3 linked regions of the Homo sapiens genome follow. The protein of the gene in region 2 purifies or fractionates together with the protein of the main gene of each other region. This does not show direct contact. Each region holds a gene or a part of one and is shown on either strand. Other genes may lie near its edges. The genes, in order: GNPDA1, PCDHGA9 and MCTS1.

Evidence for each region.
Region 1: the proteins of PCDHGA9 (region 2) and GNPDA1 purify together in Homo sapiens (co-immunoprecipitation; one large-scale study listed by IntAct). This does not show direct contact.
Region 3: the proteins of PCDHGA9 (region 2) and MCTS1 purify together in Homo sapiens (co-immunoprecipitation; one large-scale study listed by IntAct). This does not show direct contact.

The regions. Positions count from the first base shown.
Region 1 is NC_000005.10:142,006,417-142,010,069, forward strand, and holds part of GNPDA1 (glucosamine-6-phosphate deaminase 1), read right to left. Parts: intron 1,485-3,653; coding exon 1,383-1,484; intron 1-1,382. UniProt on the Homo sapiens protein: Catalyzes the reversible conversion of alpha-D-glucosamine 6-phosphate (GlcN-6P) into beta-D-fructose 6-phosphate (Fru-6P) and ammonium ion, a regulatory reaction step in de novo uridine diphosphate-N-acetyl-alpha-D-glucosamine (UDP-GlcNAc) biosynthesis via hexosamine pathway.
Region 2 is NC_000005.10:141,489,956-141,493,283, reverse strand, and holds part of PCDHGA9 (protocadherin gamma-A9 isoform 1 precursor), read right to left. Parts: coding exon of another isoform or gene 1,407-3,328; intron 1-1,406. Other genes in the region: PCDHGC5 (protocadherin gamma-C5 isoform 1 precursor), read right to left, coding at 1,584-3,328. UniProt on the Homo sapiens protein: Potential calcium-dependent cell-adhesion protein. May be involved in the establishment and maintenance of specific neuronal connections in the brain.
Region 3 is NC_000023.11:120,617,489-120,621,141, reverse strand, and holds part of MCTS1 (malignant T-cell-amplified sequence 1), read right to left. Parts: 3' UTR 1-3,653. UniProt on the Homo sapiens protein: Translation regulator forming a complex with DENR to promote translation reinitiation.

The sequences.
Region 1 (3,653 bases), 520 kb from region 2:
GACACTCCCAGGGGTCTGCCCATCTGGGAGCCTTAGGCACCAGCCCTCTGACCCCTAGCCACTCGGCACAGGCTGAGCCAGTATCCATAAGTGTCCACCCACCCAGTACCACCATCTGTGGCCACAGGGCTTGGCCAGAGTAACTGCACACCAAGGGCCTGGGAAATCCCCACATTCTGATCTGATCTGCTTTTCATAAGGCAATGACCATAGGTTAGAGGCTGGGGACACTCTGGCCACCTGGGGTAGGGCTGAACTCATCTTAGAAAGCAAGCAAGCACACCCCTCACCCTGTGCCTCTCAACCCACCATCCACTCCCAGTTCTACCCCACTCAGCCTGAATAAATCCCAGCTTGAACACCAGGTGGTTAGAGAGAACTATCTTAGGGCTTCCCCAGATCAACTTTTTTTTTTTTGGCCAGGAAAAAAAAATAATGTTTAATGTTAAGCATTAAGAATATGTAAAATCAGCCTTAAAAAGGAAGGAAATTTTGACACACACTACAACAATGGATGAACCTTGTGGACTTTATGCTAGGTGTAAGAAGCCAGTCAAAAAGACAAATACTTTATGATTCCAGTTATATACTCTAGTTTGATTCTAGAGTAGTCAAATTCATAGAAACAGACAGTAAAATGGTGGTTTCCGTGGCTGGTGAAGTGGGAAATGAGAAGTTGTTGTTTCACGGGTATAGAGCCTGAGTCTTACAAGATGAAAAGAGTTCTGGAAATTGGTTGCACAACAATGTGAATGCACTTAACACTACTGAACTATACACAGAAAGGTGGTTAAGATGGTAAATGTCATGTTACATGTATTTTACCACAATTTTTTTTTTAAAAAAAGGATGTTTAAAATGAAGCTATTACAAAAGGACTGGGTGAGGGAGAGGTGATAGAAGACCAAGGTATAGTCTTTCAGCAGCAGGAAGGATACCAATCTCAGGTCCCCTTCAAGTGTACCTGGCAGAAAGGGGAGCTGGAGGCCACACACAGAAGAGAAAGCACAGACACAGATCCTAGGGGAAACACCCGAGCCAGGATCCCACTTGCAATCATTTGTTCCAGAAAGAAATGGAATGGAGTTGAGGAGCAGGCAGAGGAGAAGGAGATACTCTAATATTTATTAAGTATTTGTTATGTATAAGAAACTTCCACATCTTTTATCATAAAAGGATTAAATGAATTTAATGCTTACAACCTGTGAGGTCAGCTTTATTAGCCCCATTTTATAGCTGAGTAAACCAAGAGGTAAGTATTGATAATTGAGCCTATCATCAAATGTCACTGGCTCCCCGATTCCTCTCCAGGACTGGGCCAATGAGAGGAGGAGCATCACTCTCCTAGAATCAGGAAAGAACCTTGAAAGAGAAAGACTCACCCACGTACTCATCCATGTTGAAGGTCTTCACATATTTAAAGGACAGGTCCCCATTCTTATAGTATTCAATCAGCTTCTTGTAGCAGCCAAGTGGGGTACTCCCTGCAAGAGTGGCCACACCCATGAACACCCCTTGCACCCCAAGTCTGGAAGCCCAGAGGGTTCACAGGAATAAGTCAGGGCTGCTCACAGGGAGAACCTGTCAGATCTGAAGTCCTACCCAGTACTCCAATCCTAACTGCCATCCATCCATTAATTGCTTGTTTAATGCCTATTTTGCCACTAGACTGTAAGCTCCAGGAGGGCAGGACTGTGTCTGCCTTGATCACTGCTGAATCTCCCAGTATCCAGCACACTGATGACTGAAATCACTCTGATTAGTACCTGAGTGAACATCAGACTTCATTATTGACATGATACTCCCTGAACAAGTAATATGTGCAAGGCACAGGGCCATGTGATAAGGACACAGGGGAGCAAGGGACAGTAGCTACTCTAAGATAACTCACTAGGAGTAGAACACAAAGCAGGAACGTCAGTTGTGATAGGGTAAAGCACAGGCTCACCCAGTGCTTCAGGGTTCAAGGAAGACTTCCCTGAGGAGCAGCGAAGCCCTAGTTGAGTCTCATTAAAAAGTCAATGTCATGGCTAGGCATGGTGGCTCACGCCTGTAACCCCAACACTTTGGGAGGCCAAGGCGGGCAGATCACTTGAGGTCAGGAGTTCAAGACCAGCCTGGAAAACATGGTGAAACCCTGTCTCTACTAAAAATACACAAAGTAGCTGGGCATGGTGGCATGTGCCTGTAATCCCAGCTACTCGGGAGGCTGAGGCACAAGAATCACTTGAACCTGGGAGGCAGAGGTTGCAGTGGGCCGAGATTGCACCACTGCACTCCAGCCTGGCCAATAGAGCCAGACTCTATCTTGAAAAAAAAAAAAAGTCAATGTCATAAAAACACACACACAATAAAAGGTAGGAGGACACTGTATATTAAAAGACTAAAGATGCATGAACCCTGACTGGACACTGAATTAATTTTTTAAAAACCAACCTATAAAAGATAAATGTGGACAATTGAGAAAAAATTGTGAACACAGTTTGCATATTAGATGATGGCATGATTTTTCATTTTCTTAGGTATGATGGTATCATGGTTGTGTAGGAGAATGTCCTTATTCTCAGGAGATATGTGCTGAAGGATTTAGAGATAAGTGTCAGGATGTCTGGAACTTATTTTCATGTGGTTCAGAAAAAAAAAGTGTGTGTGTGTGTAGATAAAGAACAAGAGCCAGAGAAAGGTAAAAGCAAATGTGGCAAAATGGTAACAATTGGTGAATTTAGGTGAATGGTATTGACCTGTTTTTTTCCTCTTTTTTGAATATTTGAAATTTTGCAAACTAAAAAAATGAAAGAAAAAAAACCCATCGAGATTACGTCATGTCACCCCTCTTTTCAAAACCCACCAATAGCTTCTCATTTCACCCTCAGCAACACCAGTTATTCTAAGGCTCCACAGAACCTGGCCCCTGGCTATGAGACCCTCCCTGCCACCATATCCAACACTGCACAGCCCCACCCCTGCCGACACACTCCCTATCCTTTCCTGCTTCATGTTTCTCCTTTCCTCTTATCACCATCTAACATACTCTATATTTTGCTAATTATTATGTCTCTCCCATTATAATTTAAGCCTCAGAAGGCAGAAGTTCATATCCTTTTTGTTCATTGCTGTATCCTTAGAGGCTAGAACAGCTTTGCATACAGAGGGTACTCAATAAATACCTGCTGAGTGAATGGCAGCTCCCCGCAGCCCACCCAAAATAATTAGTTGGTCCGTGTGACAAGGCCTTAGCTATGCCTGAGCCACATAGCTTCCTCTCTCCTGCCATTTTCCAAACTTCTAGCCTTCCCATGAATTCTCTGAACTTCCCAGTATCTAGCCAATAAACTCCTTTTCTGCTTAATTTAGCTGGAGTTGGTTTCTGTGGTTTCCACTCAGAACCCTGACAGGTGCTACATCTAACAGAAGCAATGTTCCAAGGAACCCGTGTGGAAACGCTGTCCTGTTGGTTCAAGCAGGACAGGCAGGGAGAGGCCAGGTTTTGGAGGGCCTTGAATGCCACTCTGAAGAGCTTGGATCTGACTCTGCAATGATGGGAACGAGGGAATGGTTTCAGAAGGCCAGACTCTGACCCATACAGAGGTTGGGTCTCTCCACAGTTAGGAGACAGGATGTTAGCACAGCCTCCGAGGGCCTGAGACATTGGT
Region 2 (3,328 bases):
GTCACTTGACCTCTGTGAAGCTGTTATAAGAGAGGCATGTTAGTACCTAGCCAACAGCAATGGTGGGAAGAGCAAATGAGATGAGGTTCTCAAAGGAGTTATATAGTAAGTTTCTCTCAATCAGCTATCAAAATCACCTGGGGGTGTTTCAAAATACAGTCCTAGGAGCAGAGTTAGGCATTGATATATTTTGAATAAAAGCTCCTGGAGTTGGAGAAACTTGTGTTTTTTACTATTGTAGTTTCCTCACACATAAGGGCACCCTGGCATCTGGCAGAGCCTATAGCTTTCCATCTGCCAGAGGAGACAGGACTTGTTAGAGTGTCAGATAGTTTGGTCACCTCCAAATCTCTGACCCTAGATCGCTGGGCACATTGTGATCACGACGGCGCCAAAAGCCTGTATCTCTGGGGGTTGAGAGCCAGGGCGCTCGAGGCTTTCACTTCCTGCGGGAGGAAGGGGCCGCTGGTGCCACTGGAGTCCCAGTCCTGCTGTCCTATAGAGGCTCACTCACTCGCCCAACGCGGAGCCCTGCCGCGCCTCGGCCACTGGGCAGCTCTGCCTGTCCGCCTGCTCGAGGCTTCTGGGTTGAGGGGTCGCCGACCCTTGAGACGGAGTCCCGGGACCATCCGGACCTCTGGCCCAAGGATCGTAGAGTCCTGCCCGCCCGGCACTTAGAGCGGCAGTCGCTCCAGCGCTCCTGGCCCCGCGCCTCGCTCAGGCCGCCCCCCAGGCGACCCGGCCCAGCCCGGGGCGCAGGTGGGAGAGGTGAGAGGAGGCTCCGGAGTCCTCGCCTGGTCCTGGGCGGCCGCGATCTGGGACCCTCAGGCGCGCACAATCAGCTACGAGTACTCCTGAGCCCGGCGGAGGGAGCGGCAGAGGGGAGCTGCGAGTGGACCGGAACAGGCCTGTGAATCTGGCCGCGAGCGAGTGGCAGTGAAAGCTGGTATTCGCGTAAGCCCACGTGCGAGGAGTGCGTGCGTGCGTCCGCGCACGTGTTGGCGGGGCGTGGCGAGCCCGTGCAACTTGTGTGGGCCGTGGGGGTGGCCAGCAGGGAGGACACGCATGAGCCCCGCGCGCACACCTAAGTCCCGCAGACAGGTGCGGTTGGGTGATGCGGGGATAGGGAGGGTAACAGTGAAGTCACAGATGCTGGGAGCTGGGGAGAAATCGAAGAGGAAATCTACAGACCGGCGAAGCGTGCCGGAGCCGGCGCCTAGGAGGCTGGCTGCAGGGGTGGATCTGTGACTGCCTCCTCCCGGGACCCCCGACACCCGCGGAAATCGCCCGAAATTCACCGGAAGCTCGAAGGAGGCCCCGGCCTTTTTTGAGTGTAGGGGTGGGGGTCGGTCCCACCTCCCCTCGCCCACAGTCGCCACCACCCCCGGTGCTCGGAGCCCCATCCCTTAATCGGCCACTCTGGTTTCGCGCAAACGGTCCAATGATCCCGAGAATCGGGTGGAGCGCAGCCAGCGACCAAGCCGGCCGGAGAGGAGTGGATGCAAGTTCAATCCCTTATGAGGACGGGCGGCTTCTCCAGTGCCGCCCCCAGGGGTCGCCCGGGGCGGCGCCGAGCCCCTCACCTGGCTCCGCTCCCGCAGCGTATTAGAGCGGGACCGGATGGCGTCAGGCTCCAGCGCCAGAGCTGTGGGCTGCTGAACGCTGAGGGGTCTTAGAAAAGTGAAGTCACTGCCGTCCGAGGCCGGTGAAAAGCACGTCCTGTAGCAGTGGCTCTGCGAGTCTGTGGGCCGCAGCGTCACCTCCATGTACTTGAGCGTGCCGTCCGAGCTCACCTGCAGGTTGGGGCTGGACTGCTTATAGAAGTCCGGGGAGGGTGAGTCCTGGCGCCTGCAGCACTGCCCTCCACCCCCGTCCCCGTCTGCGTTTCCCTGAAGGCACTTCGCTGACAGAAAGGTGAAGGTGACTAGGGATAAGAGACTGACGGTCGCTAGAGCCACAATGAGGTAAAGGGTAAGGTCTGAACGCTCAGGAGGGTGTATGAGGAAGTCACTGGATTTGGGCATTTCCTCAGGGTCCTCATCCTCCAGAACCAGCAGCACTGTGGCTGTGGAGGAGAGTGAAGGGTCACCATTGTCCCTCACCAGGACCACCACCTGCTGGGTGTCAGAGTCATCCTCCAGTAAGGCCCGGGCTGTGCGCACCTCACCAGTGTGTGTAGACACGAGGAACAGTCCTGGGGCTGTGGACTGTGGCAACAGTGAGTAGGAGAGCCACGCATTGTGGCCTGCATCAGCATCCACGGCTGTCACCTTGGTGACCAAGGAGCCAGGAGGAGCAGAGCGAGGGAGACGCTGGGGGGCTGAGTGTTCCCAGTCTGGCCGTGGGTGCAGCACAGCTGGGGCATTATCATTCTCGTCTAGGACAAACACATGCAGAGATGTGTTGGCATGCAATGGGGGAGAGCCGGAGTCTCGAACCCCCACCACAATCTGCAGCATCTGCAGCAATTCATAGTCAAAGGTACGCTGGGCAAAGATCCGTCCATCCTCTGGGTTGACATACACAAAGGAGGAGGCTGGGGCTCCCTGAACCTGATTTCCTACAATGGAGTAGGTGAGGCGGGCATTATCCCCAGTGTCTGGATCTGAGGCAGCCACAGTGCAAAGAAGGGAGCCCGGAGGCCGGTTTTCTAGGATGTAAGCAGTGTAAAGCTGCTGGTTGAAGCGGGGTGCATTGTCATTGACATCTGAAATGTTGAGCCTGATGGTGAGATGTTTGTGTAGGGAAGGTGAACCAGCATCGCTGGCCAGCAGCTCGATGATATAGTGGGATGTGGCCTCCCGGTCCAAAGGCTGGCTGGTTAGCAGCGAGTAGTGGTTCTCAGAAGGCTTAATCTGAAATGGCAGGTCCGGAGAGATATCAAGGCTCACTTCACCATTTCTACCTGAGTCCCGGTCTCGCACATTAAACAACCCCACTACTGTGCCCACTGGTGTGCTCTCTAGGACAGGGTTGGCCAAAGAGGCCAATAGCACCTCTGGGGCATTGTCATTGACATCCCCCACATCCACTTGAATCACACAGTGGCCCTCCATGGCAGGCTGTCCCTGGTCACGGGCTCTTGCATGAATTTCATAGAAACGTGACTCCTCAAAGTCTATGGGACCCAACACATGGATTGCCCCACTGCTAGGGTCTAGGCCAAAGAGGTTCCGCACTGCCTCAGATGTGTGGTCTCCAAAAGAATAGTCTAGTTGGCCGTTGGTGCCCTCGTCTGGATCAGTGGCATTGAGGCGGAGCAGCAGAGTACCAATGGGTGCATTCTCTGGGATTCCCACACGTAGAACTGAGGATTGGAAGGTTGGAG
Region 3 (3,653 bases), on a different chromosome or scaffold from region 2:
TTTATTTAACCCAAACATATCCAAAATATTATCATTTCAATATATAATCAACAGGAAAGAATAGATAATTTACATTATTTATTAAGTCTTTGAAATCCAGGGTGTATTTTAGTTACAGCACATCTTAATTCAAACTAGTCACATTTCAAGTTCTCAGTGGCCACATATGGATGGGCAGAGGCTACCATATTAGATAGCATAGGTCTAAGCAAGTCCAGAAGTATGAGACCCCCCAATAGCTAAACATGAATGGGAGAAAACTTAGTTTCTTCTAAAAGTTGTATTTATTTTTCTGATTTTCTTGAATGCAATGGAAACTGCAACCTGACTTTTAGCAAGCCCCAGGCCATCTCCTTGCATGACTTTAATCACTGGATTTTTCTTCCCAAAAATTAAATCATTGGATCCGGAGCAAAATGTAGATTAGGCCCCTCAATGTTTTTTCCCTTAAATTATAACTGAACCCAAACTCTTCCTGTCATTAATTTTAATATCTTTTTTTTTTTTTTAGACGGAGTCTTGCTCTGTCGCCCAGGCTGGAGTGCAGTGGCACAATCTCGGCTCACTGCAACCTCCGCCTCCCAGGTTCAAGCAAATCTCCTGCCTCAGCCTCCTGTGTAGCTGGGATTACAGGCACGCGCCACCACGCCCGGCTAATTTTTTTTTTTTTTTTTTTTTTTGTATTTTTAGTAGAGACAGGATTTCACCATGTTGGCCAGGGTGGTCTCAATCTTCTGACCTCATGATCCACCCACCTTGGCTCCCAAAGTGCTGGGATTACAGGCACGCGCCACCATGCCCAGCTAATTTTTGTTTTTTGTTTGGTTGGTTTTTGAGACGGAGTTTCGCTCTGTTGTCCAGGCTGGAATGCAGTGGTGCGATCTCAGCTCACTGCAAGCTCCGCCTCCCGGGTTCATGCCACTCTCCTGCCTCAGCCTCCCGAGTAGCTGGGACTACAGGCGCCCACCACTGCGTCCGGTTAATTTTTTGTATTTTTAGTATAGACGGGGTTTCACGTTAGCCAGGATGGTCTCGATCTCCTGACCTCGTGATCCGCCCACCTTGGCCTCCCAAAGTACTGGGATTACAGGCGTGAACCACCGTGCCCGGCCTTCCCCAGATATCTTCAAAGCAACTGCTAGTCCTGCTTTTGCACATTACACTCTACATTCTCATTGCCCCACTTAACTAACCCTCCCTCATGTCCTTTTCTAAAGATGTAGAAGACTTTGAAATAGCATAACATTTAAATGGTCACAAATCACCTGGCTTGAAAGTGACTAATAATAGGAAAATCAGACCTCAGGACTGAGTTCAATTTCAAGATTCTCCCACTCCACTTTGCTAAGAGGGAAACAGAAAAACATTACTCCAGCCACACAAATATGATACTGTGCAAGTATCCCACTCTTACTCATTCAAATCCTACCCATTTTTTCCCATCGTGGAACAGAGTCTTGCCAACTTATACCTCTCTCCAATAACCCATAAAGATGGTGATTTGAATTTGGGCCAAGATTTAACATTTTATGAAATACAAGAGGAGAGTTTTCTGCAAAACACAGGATTTGCAGACAAGGAGACTTAGGTTCAAATTCCAGTTCTGCCATTTATTACCTCAGAGAGGTCATACAACTTTCCTGAAGTTGTATGACCTCTCTGAGCCTTAGTCTCCTCGTTTGTAAAATGAGAGTTAAAATCTACCTCATGGAATCATTGCTAAGATTAAGCAAGATATATAAGTAGAGCTTGTGCACATGGTAGGTACTTGGAGAATGTTATTTCTCCTTCCCTCTTACTCATCTGGACAAGTTTAACTAGAATTCTAAACAGTTAAATATGTATCAATCCTTTGTATTAAATATCTTGATGGTAAAATGTTAAAATATTGATGTGAATAACAGCTGGTATTGAATATTCAAATTAGGGGAACTCTTTCATTGTTTTAAGATAACATCTGTACATTTAATCTGTGCCATGCAATAAAACAGCTTTTCCTGAAACAGCTTTTTAAAAACTATTTTTAAGAAATTCATAAGTTACTTTTAAGAACATTAGCTTAGAACATCTTCCCCTTTCACAACAAATTAGACATTAGAGCCAAAATTGCCCAAATTGGTATAGTTTCTATCTCCCTACACTTTAATCAAGATGTTTGTCTTTATATCAGCAAAAACCGCTACTTAAGTGAGATTCCTGCATCCCAATAAATGTATCTGGGCATTTGGTACTTGAGAGAGGATTGGGTTTGACAACACCCAGAAGCTAATGAGGATGTGCCTTCTCTCAGACCTTTGCATTCAGGAGCAAGAAAGCAGAAATACTTTGTGGACTCCTTTTCAGACACTTTACAAAATACAAAATTTTAACCTTGTGAAACACAAAATAAATGCAGGATAAATGTCCAAACATTTTAGCCCCTACTGTTTTTGAAACTGAATAAAGCCATGATAGTGAAAAATATTTTCCAGTCAGTGCTTTTTGGAAGCTATTTAGTAGATATTAATTTGATGGGTTAGAGATTGCTATTATCCCATTAAATGAAGCTGTTTCTACTTCATATTCAAATATATTTCAAGTTGAACTTGCTTAAATCTAAAATGCTTACACAAGCAAACTGTGGAAAGAATTTAGTCACGCAAAAGAAAACTTTTTCTTAATCCTGGATAAGTCAACTCTAAGAAAGCTGTCCAGAGCCTACAGAGCAAAAAGGACTTTCCTTCCAGCCTCCTCACCATGTCCAATCTAGTCCAGATGTGAAGAGTCAATTTTGGTTTTAAACAAAATTTGCATGCAGCAGCATTAGAACTAATGAAAACAGTATCCAGACTAAGACGTGCATACAAAATCTTTCACATCATGAGAAACTAAAAATTTGTTAAAACATCAGTCGGCAGGAACAGACATCTCAAGCTCCACTGATAAGGGAAGCAAAACTGGAACTACATGCCGCTTTTAAAAGTGTCTCAAATTTAAGCTCACTCAAGGACTATTAATAGACAGTGTCAAACTGACATGCCGTTTCATCATTAAATCATCTTATTGGTTTGCAAGTTTCCAAGCCTCAGGGCTTCATTATGCATCAGCATAGGACAACACCAGAATTTGGGGACAAAGACAACATCCCTTTTTGAAAGAGGTGGTAAGAATAAAAACAGGTTGGCCAACCTTGGAAGCCACCGCAGTATGGCTTCCCATGAACCAAAAAGGCAATTGAATTGTATTTGTTTTCAAGGCATACGTTTGGAAAAATAGCACTTTTTCCAAGCATGTGCTTAGTTAGAACAAATGATTTATTGCTTAAAACCCAGTCTTTTACTCACACGCTTGTGAAAATAAGAAGAAATTACCTATTTCACCATAGATTATTAAATGGACGTTAACAGTTATTGACAATCGAGTCTTGTGATAAGAAATTAAAATTATAAAGTAAATCTTCCCGTCTTTAAATTCTAGGTGGTAGAGTTCTGAGAACACTTACAATGAACTTTAAGGGAGTAATTGATTATGCTTTTGAAGTCTCCTATATTCACATATTGGCTGAAAGTAAAGCATTTTAAAATTGGAGAATGAAATGAAGAGCAATAACATTTGTTATATGAAAACTGTGGTTTTACTTTTAAAATGGGATTTTAAAAATGTATTAGTTGGGT